2 linked regions of the Homo sapiens genome follow. The protein of the gene in region 2 interacts with the protein of the main gene of each other region in a pairwise test. Each region holds a gene or a part of one and is shown on either strand. Other genes may lie near its edges.

What was found.
Region 1: the proteins of CDS2 (region 2) and MR1 interact in binary tests that used the Homo sapiens proteins (3 or more experiments, as listed by UniProt).

Annotation. Positions count from the first base shown.
Region 1 is NC_000001.11:181,057,782-181,062,538, reverse strand, and holds the end of MR1 (major histocompatibility complex class I-related protein 1 isoform 1 precursor), read right to left. Parts: 3' UTR 601-4,757; downstream 1-600. UniProt on the Homo sapiens protein: Antigen-presenting molecule specialized in displaying microbial pyrimidine-based metabolites to alpha-beta T cell receptors (TCR) on innate-type mucosal-associated invariant T (MAIT) cells.
Region 2 is NC_000020.11:5,193,008-5,198,688, reverse strand, and holds the end of CDS2 (phosphatidate cytidylyltransferase 2), read right to left. Parts: 3' UTR 802-5,681; downstream 1-801. UniProt on the Homo sapiens protein: Catalyzes the conversion of phosphatidic acid (PA) to CDP-diacylglycerol (CDP-DAG), an essential intermediate in the synthesis of phosphatidylglycerol, cardiolipin and phosphatidylinositol.

The sequences.
Region 1 (4,757 bases), on a different chromosome or scaffold from region 2:
CGGGTTGTTTCCCCGGTTGTTCCCACACTCTAGCCCATTTGTGTCCTCAGAGGTCTGGCCGCTGCCACTGCACCTGCCTCAGACCCAGTGTCACCTCGCCAGGGCTTCAGCCAGCCTGACCTTCCAGCTGCCACCCAGCAGCTCAGCTTAGGGACTCAGAACCTTCTGGCCCAGACCTTCATACCCAACTCCCGCCCAGGGGCAAATGCAGAAGCCTCTGCTGGTGCAGCCAACACGGAGTGGGGGCAAGGCGGAGAGGAAAAGCAACAGCTCAGGGTGTGGTAAGAGTGCTCAGGGTGCTTCCCAGCTCAGGGCATTGGTAAGAGTGGGTGGAATTTGCATGTTAAGAACTTTCATTAACCAAATACCCAAATGGTGACAGAAAAGCAAATTCAGACTAGTTACATTTCTGGAAGGTTTCAGATATTTGGGCCCCCAAGATGGCTGAGAACTCATTTCTCAGCACCTCTTCTCATAGCCTTCGAGAAAAACAGTACCTCCCATAAGAACCTCCGAATTCTATCTTTGTCTTTAATATGTATGTGTTGGGTGGGGTGGGGGTATTGATGGAATGTTTCAGATCACTAATCTCACAGACAATGCAATGACAAGATAAAGTTTATTAGATGGAGAATGTTAATACAGCTGAAACCTTTGAAGAATTCAGACCAGTCCTCAAACCATTCATCCTGAGTACCTGGAATGTTATATGATCTTGAGTGGGATATTTCCCCTCTATGACTTCAGCTGTAAGATGACACTGTTCTTTTGTACCAGTACATGAAGACTAGCTAATTAAAATACTATACTAGTTCATTCAAAAAGTATTTACTGAGTTGCTACTACGTACAAGGCATCATGCAAACAGACTGTGCAGTATTACATAAAATTTTTAAAATAGATTTCCATAAATAAACACCATGATAGGATTATGTAACATCTTCCAGGGAATTTTAACCGTTTGGATGTACTACACAGTGGTTCTGGTTCTACCAGTCTAAATGAATTGACTTGTTTTTTTTTCCACCATCACTCCTCCCTTTCAATTCAATTCATTCATTCTGGTGTGCAGCCCATTTCTGTCTATTTTCTAATGATATGACCAGAGCCACCATGTAGGCTTGTGCCCTGCACAAGGATAGATACCCCACTGGGGAACAAACGGGACCAAAATCTACTCTGTGTTCTGCTGGCCAAGCCGGGTGACCTGGCCTGGGCTGGCGTCCTCCCAGAAGAAGGGTTCATTTTTCCAGTTTGCACACATGTGCTATTTGTGGGTTAGCTGAGGCCCTGCTTATGTCTTCAGTTGGTTCACAAACCAGAAACAGAACAAATGGCCATCATTTGATTACAAATGTAATCAAACTAGATTTACAACCAAGGCTTGCTGAGTGGCATTATGGGTTTTATCCTGTTGCATGGCAAGCCGCTCATGCACGGGCTGTGCTCAGTGTCCTTTTTCCTCAGCCATGCCAGCCATGGGGAAGCAGGAGGGGAGCTTGTTGGAGAAGGTGGCCTCAATGAGAGCCTTGGTGCATTCCCCTGAAGCCACAGTTTGGGGCTTCTCCCTCAGCAGGGGTCTCCACAGTCTGAGTGTTTTCAGAAATCTTATATCCAGGGGACCCCAAATCTTATGTCCAGGCCCCAGGGTCTGAACTCATATTTAAGTACTGAAAGGCATCAGCATCTCCCCTCTGGTTGAACTTGACCTTCTTACTGAGAACCAGCCAGGCAGGCATCAGAAGCCTCAGGCTCCAGAGGAGAAGCTGGTGGGCAAATAGGTCAGGAGCAACTGCTTTCACCATCAGGGATGAAAGTTGAAGACCAAGAACACTTCCTTGTCCTGTGGTGCAGGGGTTGGGATGGAGGGGTGAGTCTTATAAATGGAAGAGAACTAAGTGTTGTGATTTAAAGGAAGAACATTTGCCTCCTGCCCCCAAATGCTCCCAAACTCTCCAAAATTCCACAGATTCCTTTGGCTTAACTCCTTTCACAGAGGTAAGCTAAGGTAGTCAGTCTCACTGTAGTTGCGGTGAATTCATTTAATGATCTTGGTTTCCTAACTGCTAGATAATCCAGTGGAGCCAAAAAATTTTGGTGGATTGAGGGAACCTACAGAGGTTGGGTAGAGATGTGTTAGGAGTTGAATTGTTTCCTCCAAAAAATTCATGTTGAAGTTATAACCCCCAGTACCTCAGAATGTGGCCTTCTTTGGAAATAGGGTTGTTGCAGATGTAATTTGGGAAGGTGAGGTCATCCTGCAGTAGTAGAGTGGGTCCCTAATCCAGTATGACTGATGGCCTCATGAAAAAAGGAAATTTGGACACAAAGCCATGCATGCAGGGAGAACACCAAATGAAGACTAGAGTTACGCAGCCAGAAGGCAAGGAACAACCAGAAGATAGGAGGGAAGCCTGGAACAGATCCTTTCCCAGTCCCTTTAGAGGCAGCATGTTTCTGCCAACACTTCATTTTGAACTTCTGGCCTCCAGAACTGTGAAACAATAAATTTCTGTTGTTCCAAGCCACCCAGTTTTTGTGGTACTTTTAAACGACTACCCTTGGAAACCAGTACAAGGTGGAACGGGGAGACGATGGAGAACATGACATTGTGACATGTTGCATCTTTCCCAAAATGGCCACAATGATATCTCCCAACTACATGCTCTTCTTACAATGTAACTCTGACAATCTTCCTATTGAGTGTTGGGTTCTATACACCCTCTTTTTGAACCTGAGCAGGATTTTATGACTTCTTCACCAATGAGAGTATCACAAGAATGACATTTTGTGACTTCCAAGATTAGATTATATAAATGCTATGCACTTTGACTGTGATCTCTTGGGATACTCACTCTGAGGGAAGCTAGCTGCCATGTAAGCAGTGACTGCCCTGAGGCCACCATGTTGTGAGGAAGCCCAACCCACACAGAGAGATTACATGGAGAGTTCCTGAGACTACATGGAGGAGATGTAGCTGATGCCTGGCCACCACCCCTGGCTGCCCCATTTCTGTTCCAGCCACCACTTGCCTCCAACTCCATGAGAAGCCAGAACTGCTTACCCAAGCCATATCCAAATTCCTGACCCATAGAAACTATGAAAGAAAATAAAATGGGTATTGTTTTAAACCAATAGGTTTTGGGTTTTGTTACACAGTCTGTGGGGTTTGGGGCAACCAGAAGCTAGAAGGACAATGGAGAAAGGGAGGCCAGAGTGAAAAGGAGATGCAGAGATGTTACAGAGACATACAATGCTCAAAGATGGCAATTTCCAAAGAAAGAGAGGTGAAGGCAGCTCAGGCAGTGGAATCATCAACCTCTAAAAAGCACAATGTACTGAATGTCCTGAAGCTATTGGGGAAAAAAAAAAGATGAAAAGGGCAATGCAGTTAAGTGGGAAACACCTGGGCTGGGAGATGCCTGTGCTTCTTCCTAGCTCTGCTGCCCACAGCACATGGCTATGGGCAAAGCCCCCTGTCCTCCTTGGAGAACATTCTGTGAACTAATACACTGTGTGTGAGAAAATAGCAAACTCCAGAGAGCAGGTGCTAACAAGCAAGAATGTGTCCCCTTGCACCAATTCTGGGGTCATCAAGCACTCTACAGATTGTGATTTAGTTGTTCTTATGTAGATTTTCCTGCTGGAAGGTGTACTGACCAGCTGAGACAGATATCTGACCCACTTAGCAATTGTGTTTCTCACAGTAAATTAATACATTGGCACTCCACTTTATATATCCATCTGATCACTTTGTGGGGACACTAGACCTGCATATGTGAGGACAAAGACCCCAGACAGTGGTTTTCAAAATAAGGTGTGACTGCTCTGTGTGACTCTGGCAGAAAATGATCAGCTGGCCTCCCTAGTGGACAATCTGTTCCTCATAGCTACAAGTGCAAAAACATCTTCTCTCAGGCCAAAAAAAGAAGAGGAGAAACCAAGTCATTCCTCAGAAATAAGGAAAGGATCACAACTTGGAAATCATGGGAGTAAGAGGAGAGAGGAAAGGAGGACTGGCCCCTGATGGGAGAGCTCAGAAACTCTCGATGGAGTCTTGTTGGATTTTTCACCCTGCTCTTTAAACTGCTTTCTCTCCCTTAAATGTACCACATCAAAAACATCTGCCATTTAAATTTACCACATCTTGGTCTATATGCACATCAAAAACAAACAAACAAAAAAAACAAAAACAGGTAATAAATACAGTGGAGTTAAAAAAAAAAAAAAGAACAGAGTTGAACAGGTTTCTCATCTAGTGTTCTTGATCCAAAATATTCAGTAAAGAAAATTCAAAGCCAAAACATAGCTGTGGCAATAGCACAGTTATTTGTTTTTAATGTTTAGATCATGGTGTCAAATATTTCATAGGTTATGATTACTGAGCATCTGTACTCAACAACCATGAAGTAATGAAGCAATAACAAGGCTAAAACAATTAAGAAGTAATATAATCTTCAACCATCTATAGTAAAATGAAGGTTGCAGAATTTTAGGTATTACTTACTTATTTTATTTTTATTTTTTTGAGATGGAGTTTCACTCTTGTTGCCCAGGCTAGAGTGCGATGGCGCGATCTCGGCTCACCACAACCTCTGCCTCCCGGGTTCAAGCGGTTCTTCTGCCTCAGACTCCCGAGTAGCTGGGATTATAGGCATGCGCCACCATCCCCGGCTAATTTTGTATGTTTGGTAGAGACAGGGTTTCTCCATGTTGGTCAGGCTGGTCTCGAACTCCCGACCTCAGGTGATCTGCCC
Region 2 (5,681 bases):
GCTGTGGCTGTGAAGGCAGGGCCCGAATGCGTGGGTCAGGCACTGGCCAGCTCACAGATGGCCCCAGAAGCCTCGTTACCAAGTCTGAACTTTAACCTCAAGACCCAAAGGGTTCCAAGCAGAGAGCTCATCCCAGCTATCATGCAAGAAATGGATTAGAGAGGTGGCCAGGCTGTAGGGAGAGGGCTAGAGGCTGCCTTAGAAATCCTGGCAGGAGATGGGGCCTGGCCCAGAAGGCTGGCAGTAAGGATGATTCCGAGGATGTTTGGAAGGCAGAACGGGCAGGCTTGGGTGACTGATGAGATCACTCCAGTTACTGGCTTGTGTGACAGAACACATGGGTAGTTAGAGAACACAGGACTCAGGACATGGGTCATAGGTTTGGGTTTTATCATGCAAAGTCTGTGTGAGAGGCCTCACAGGCAGCTGGAAATGCAGGCCCACTTGGGCTAGAGACATGGACTTGGGAAGTGTTGAAATGAGTGTGGTGATCAGGATCCTGGGAGGGGGTGGGAACACCTAGAGGGGAGAATTCAGTGGGCGAAAGAGAGCCTCAGGCAGAATGCCACCACCCAAGGGATGGCCCAGAAAAGAGACACCCAGAAAGAAGACCGAGGAGGAGCAACCAAGGGCAGGAGGAAAGCCGGGGGGGCAGGTTGCCAAGGCCAAGGACAGAGGGAGTCTCTAGAAGCAAGCGGTGGTCAGCAGCATCCTGGGAAATAATGCTGGCTCCACATAAGCAACCAAACGTCCACACCCCTGGCCTTCCGCCACCCCCACCATCGAAAACCACACATGATCTAGAATTTAATATATGTTTATTTGTGTAGTAGGAACATTCAGGTATATAAATAAGGTAAATGCTTTCCAACGTACAGTATATCATGTTCTTACATTGCGTGGAAAAAGAACCTACATGTATTGTTCAACATGGATCACGAGTGCACAGAGAGAGAGATCAGCTGCATTTAGTGAAACGCCAAGTTGGGAAAATGGCACAGCAGTAGCGCACAGGCACACAGCTATCTGGGGAGGCTGTGGGGACTGTCACGTGGACTCTACACACCGAGAACTGCTTCAAGGTCGCCTGTGTCTGAGTGCGGGTAAAGTGAATATCAACACCCAGGCTATCAGGGTGAGACAACTGAATTCCATCATGTCCATCCACTTTACAAAGGGGTGGGAGGCACCATGGAGAAACTGACCAGAAATGCTCTGCCCTGTCACAGAGGAGACAGAGCCAGGGCAGACACGGCTGACCTCTGGGAGGCACAGACACTGGCAGTGATGGGTCCCATGGGATGCCTGGCACTCCCAGCACAGACAGCTCCCCAAAGCAGGTGGGGAGGCCCTTTCTGTGTTTGGGAACTTTTTAGTTAAACAAATCCTCAGAATCGAATTAAGAAGGATGTCCACAGCTCGATCAAAAAAAAAAAACCAAAAAAAAAAAAAAAACCACCAAGGTTCCCAAGATCCTTCAACAGAGGGGCTTCCCATCTGATCTTACCCTCCTGTTTCAGAAGGTATTAAACATCAATAAAAATTAAAATATATTATCAGTATCAACTCTAGAAGATAACCCATGGCTTCAAATCTCCCTGGACGGGTTCTCTGAGCCCAGATTTCTGGTCCCCAACTCGTATGACATCCAGGGCCAGCGAGCGTTCAGCTGGCATCTGTTAGAGTCTGCCCTCCACTGTGAGACTCCTGGCCCCTCCGTGGCCCTGGTATTCCTCCTGCTGCTGCCCCTAGGAGTCCTCCAGCTGGATAACAATAAACCAAACCGCTGTCTCCTAATCCCTGACTTGTTCTCCTGACTCCTAGTCCTTTGGTTTCATCGGCCCCTGATGTCTGTTCAACTCTTCCCCTTTGTAATCAGCCCCTAGCACCCAGTCAGCATGACGTAAGACAGAAAAACAGTTTACTAAAGGCCAGAGCCCTGTGCACAGAGGATTTAAAAGAAACAGCACCCAAAGGACACTCATGAAAACATGTATGCACATTCTGCCTGCTAGAAAACATTCTCAACCTCTTTTCTACTCTGCTGTTCCTTTAAGAAAAGCCAGCATACAAGAACCTAGCGCAGGTGTCAAAAAAAGGCATCCAAACTGCGAGGACAGAGGTGGCTATGTGGATGATTATCGGCAAACACAGTTTCACTAGAGACAAAATCACCAGGTGGCTAACCCTTCTGAGTGCTTTATGCAGGCAAGGTCCTCTGGGGGCTGCAAAAGGCTAGGCCCTGCCCAATGCCCGGGAGACCACTGCAAAGGCATTCTCTGCTTGATTTCCAGAGGGCCCTTACCACAACCCCCTCCCCGGCCCAGCAGTGGAGGCTTTCTATGGATACAAGGCTGCCTAGGTCTATTCAACAACACAATGAGGGAGGAAGCACCAGGCAAGGCAAACACAAACCCAGAAGGACAGGAGGGCTCGGGGGCAAGCCTGGGATTGGCCTGTCACAGCAGCTGCTTCCTAGAAACCCCCACAACCATCTTCTCCTGGTTCATGGCATTATCATTACTTCAGCAATTCAATGAAACAGAGGGACCATTATTTCCATACTATTAATAGCAATGTGCTGTTGGGTCCCACTAATACCCAGGAAATAATCCACAGTCAAACCAGTAGTTCAGTTATTATTCAACTGACCTAGGAATTTCATGGATCCTGTTAGCCAACACCATTCCTTCAAAGTGAGGCAGCCTCCCCTTACACACACGTGCCCCAACTCCCCACCCCCATTCAGAAAACTAAGTTCAAGAAACTCTTTTCATTAAGTCCTGTGCCTGTTCTCCCTTCATTCATGAGTCACCCATTTGAGTCTTTGCTAACCTAGAATCCGGCAGAAATACCTCACATCATGTGTCCTCAATGGGTCACCCACTTCTACCCGGTTACTACTTTTAGAAGGAAACATGAAGCTCCAGATTGGCTGCGTCATAAGGATGTGGGCAGAACTTCTAGGCTTTTAGTCTACATAATCCCCTACAAAGCAGGTTTCTGTTGTCCCCATTCTTCTCTTCTTGGCCCCTGAGGACATCCACCCATACAGGGAACTGCTGCAGGCTCCTGAGCTATGTGCACAGAAGACAGCCCTTGGCCAGAGCGGGAAGTGGGGTCCAGAGCGAGTCACAGACAGGCCCTCCCTGCCCAGAGTGGAGGTACCACCAGACAGGAGGAGATGGCCTTCCCACAAGCAGTCCAGACTGTGGGCAGAGGAGGTGAGCTGGATTCTCAGGCCAGCCATTCTCACTAAGAACAGAACTTCTGCACACCCCCATGTCCTCTTGCCTCGTTAGGGTGGCCTCCTAAATGGTGTGTGAAGCACCAAGATGCTGTAGGGGATGTTAAGGTTGGCGTGCTTCTCTCGGAGGGACCCAGACTGTGTGCAGGGTGGTGGCAGTGTGGTGGCTGACAATCCCATCTCTGGCATTGCACCAACGGAGGTCAAACTACCAGCTGAGCTCAACAAAAGTAACTACCATTTATTGAGTGCTTACTATGTGCCAGGCATGGTACTAAATGCTTACATGCATTACCTCGTTATATCCTCACAACCACCCCAGGAAGAAGGTACTATTATCAGACCCAACTGCCTTCAAGGTAGAAGCTTAGAGCAGCCTAGAAACCTGCCCGCACCTAGGGTGATTTGATCCCAAAGTCTGTCTTAACCACTGCTCTCGGCCTCAGTCATACTGCCTCAGTTTCCTCATCTATAAAATGGAGACAACAATACCTAATCAAAGGCTGTTTTCTGGATTAAAAGGGATAACGTATGTAAACCCTTAGCACTATGCCTGGCACATATTAAGCACTATACTATTGCAATCCTTATTAATAAACACACTGATATCTCATTGGCTCAAGAATAAAAAGAGAAGGCGCCTCAGTAGGTAGGCATTTGATGGGAAAAGGAAGGGGAGGGTGGGGGAGGAGACAGGGTCTTTAAACAGCCAACAAATTTGAAACCCACTGGACAAAAAACCCTAGACTTCACAAACTCTGCCCCTCTATTCTCATAAATCATCCGCATGTCCTCAAAATCCCAACACTTCAGCATCCAAAGGATACCTCCTAAACTGCACTCAAAGTGCGTTGGGAAACATGGTCCCTATACAAACAGGTGACAGCCTTAATCAAGAGACAGCCCCAGATGAGAACAGCCTCCATCCACCTGAGAGGCCAGGTAAGGCCACTGCTGGTCAACCTGAAAGGGAAGGGCGCATTCAGATGGCAACAGCAGCCAGGACTCTTCTGAGAATAGGGCCCACCTTCTGCAGGGATGTGGATAAGGAGAGTCCAGGCCCAAGAGAAGGTGGGCCAGGCAGAGCCCTGAGATAAGAATCCTTCGTGACCACTTGGTTTAAACCCTAGCACCCCATGCAGGTTGTGGCACAAGGCCCCCACCCAACAAGAGAAACTGAGTCAGGAAGTGAGAGCTGTTCATCTCTTTAAAAACTGGAAGCTGGGCAGCTGCGTGCAGGGTGATCAAGGGAAAAGGAAGTTTGTTTTGACCAAGTCAGGGAAGAATACGGGGCTCTGCCTGAGTATTAGCCATCATCTTCAGGCCAGAGTTTGTTCCACCTGCTCTTTGGAGTCCAGTGTTCCAAAGCACAAGTGAGAGTCCATCCGCGGCTTACTGTCTTGCAATGTGTCCATAAAAGTCACCTGGACATCCTCCCCACCCTGACCTCAGAAGAACAGAAACCTGTTCAAGTGAAATTGTCCTCCCAACTCCACCCTTTTCTTAGCACATAATCACAGTGTGCAAGAAAGGTGGGCCCAGATATGTTACTCTGGAAGACAAAAGACAATAGTGCCTAAGATATTACTAAAACAGGAAAAGGCTTCAGCAGTGACATACCACATTTAGTAGGGTGATGAAAATCTACCCCCTTGGACATGCAACTAGGACTGGCTTTGTAACTAACAAGACCCCTGCTTCACAGTTTTCTGAGCAAGGACACTCTGTCTCAAGTCACTTATACTCTCCCACTACCCGACTCTGTCAATAGTGGAGATGAACCTGAGCTTTGGGAAACATGGTCCCCATACAAACAGGTGACAAGGGCTGAGCCAAGGGCTCACTGACAGTGTGAAGATCTCAACTCAAAGATCCATTCAAATAAGGCTCCAGTCAACTCAGCAACTAGCTCAGACCAAATCACAAGGTCTGTGTAGTCTCCCTTAAAACATATTTTTGGGATTTTCTTGCATAATATAGGTCAAGTTACAGTGGAAAAAAATTCTATAAAAATGGATTCAAAGTCCACCTGTGTAAAGTCAAAAGTTGTATCCTCCCCAATGAAAGAGATTAGTTTCAAAGGATGTGAAACTAGTTCTCATACATTATAGGGCTGTACAATACTAAGAGTAATTACATTTTAAATGCAAAATACTGTAGCTACTAAAATGCCCAGAATATGAAACAAGTTGCCTAAGAGGGTTTCACTTTCAGGAGTAAAACATAAATGGAACCTTTCTGAATACTAAAAGCAGTTAAGAGGGCAGCATGCGCACACACAAAAGGCAAAGACTCGGTACCCTGTGAGCGGTCATGAGCAGAGCTCCCAGGGGCTGGGGGGTGCCCATCAGCCCTGGTTTCTATGACCCCCTTGTTCCACCAGGCAGGAGCCAACAGCAATTTAAGCTCCAACCTGGCTCAGGCCAGGCCTCCT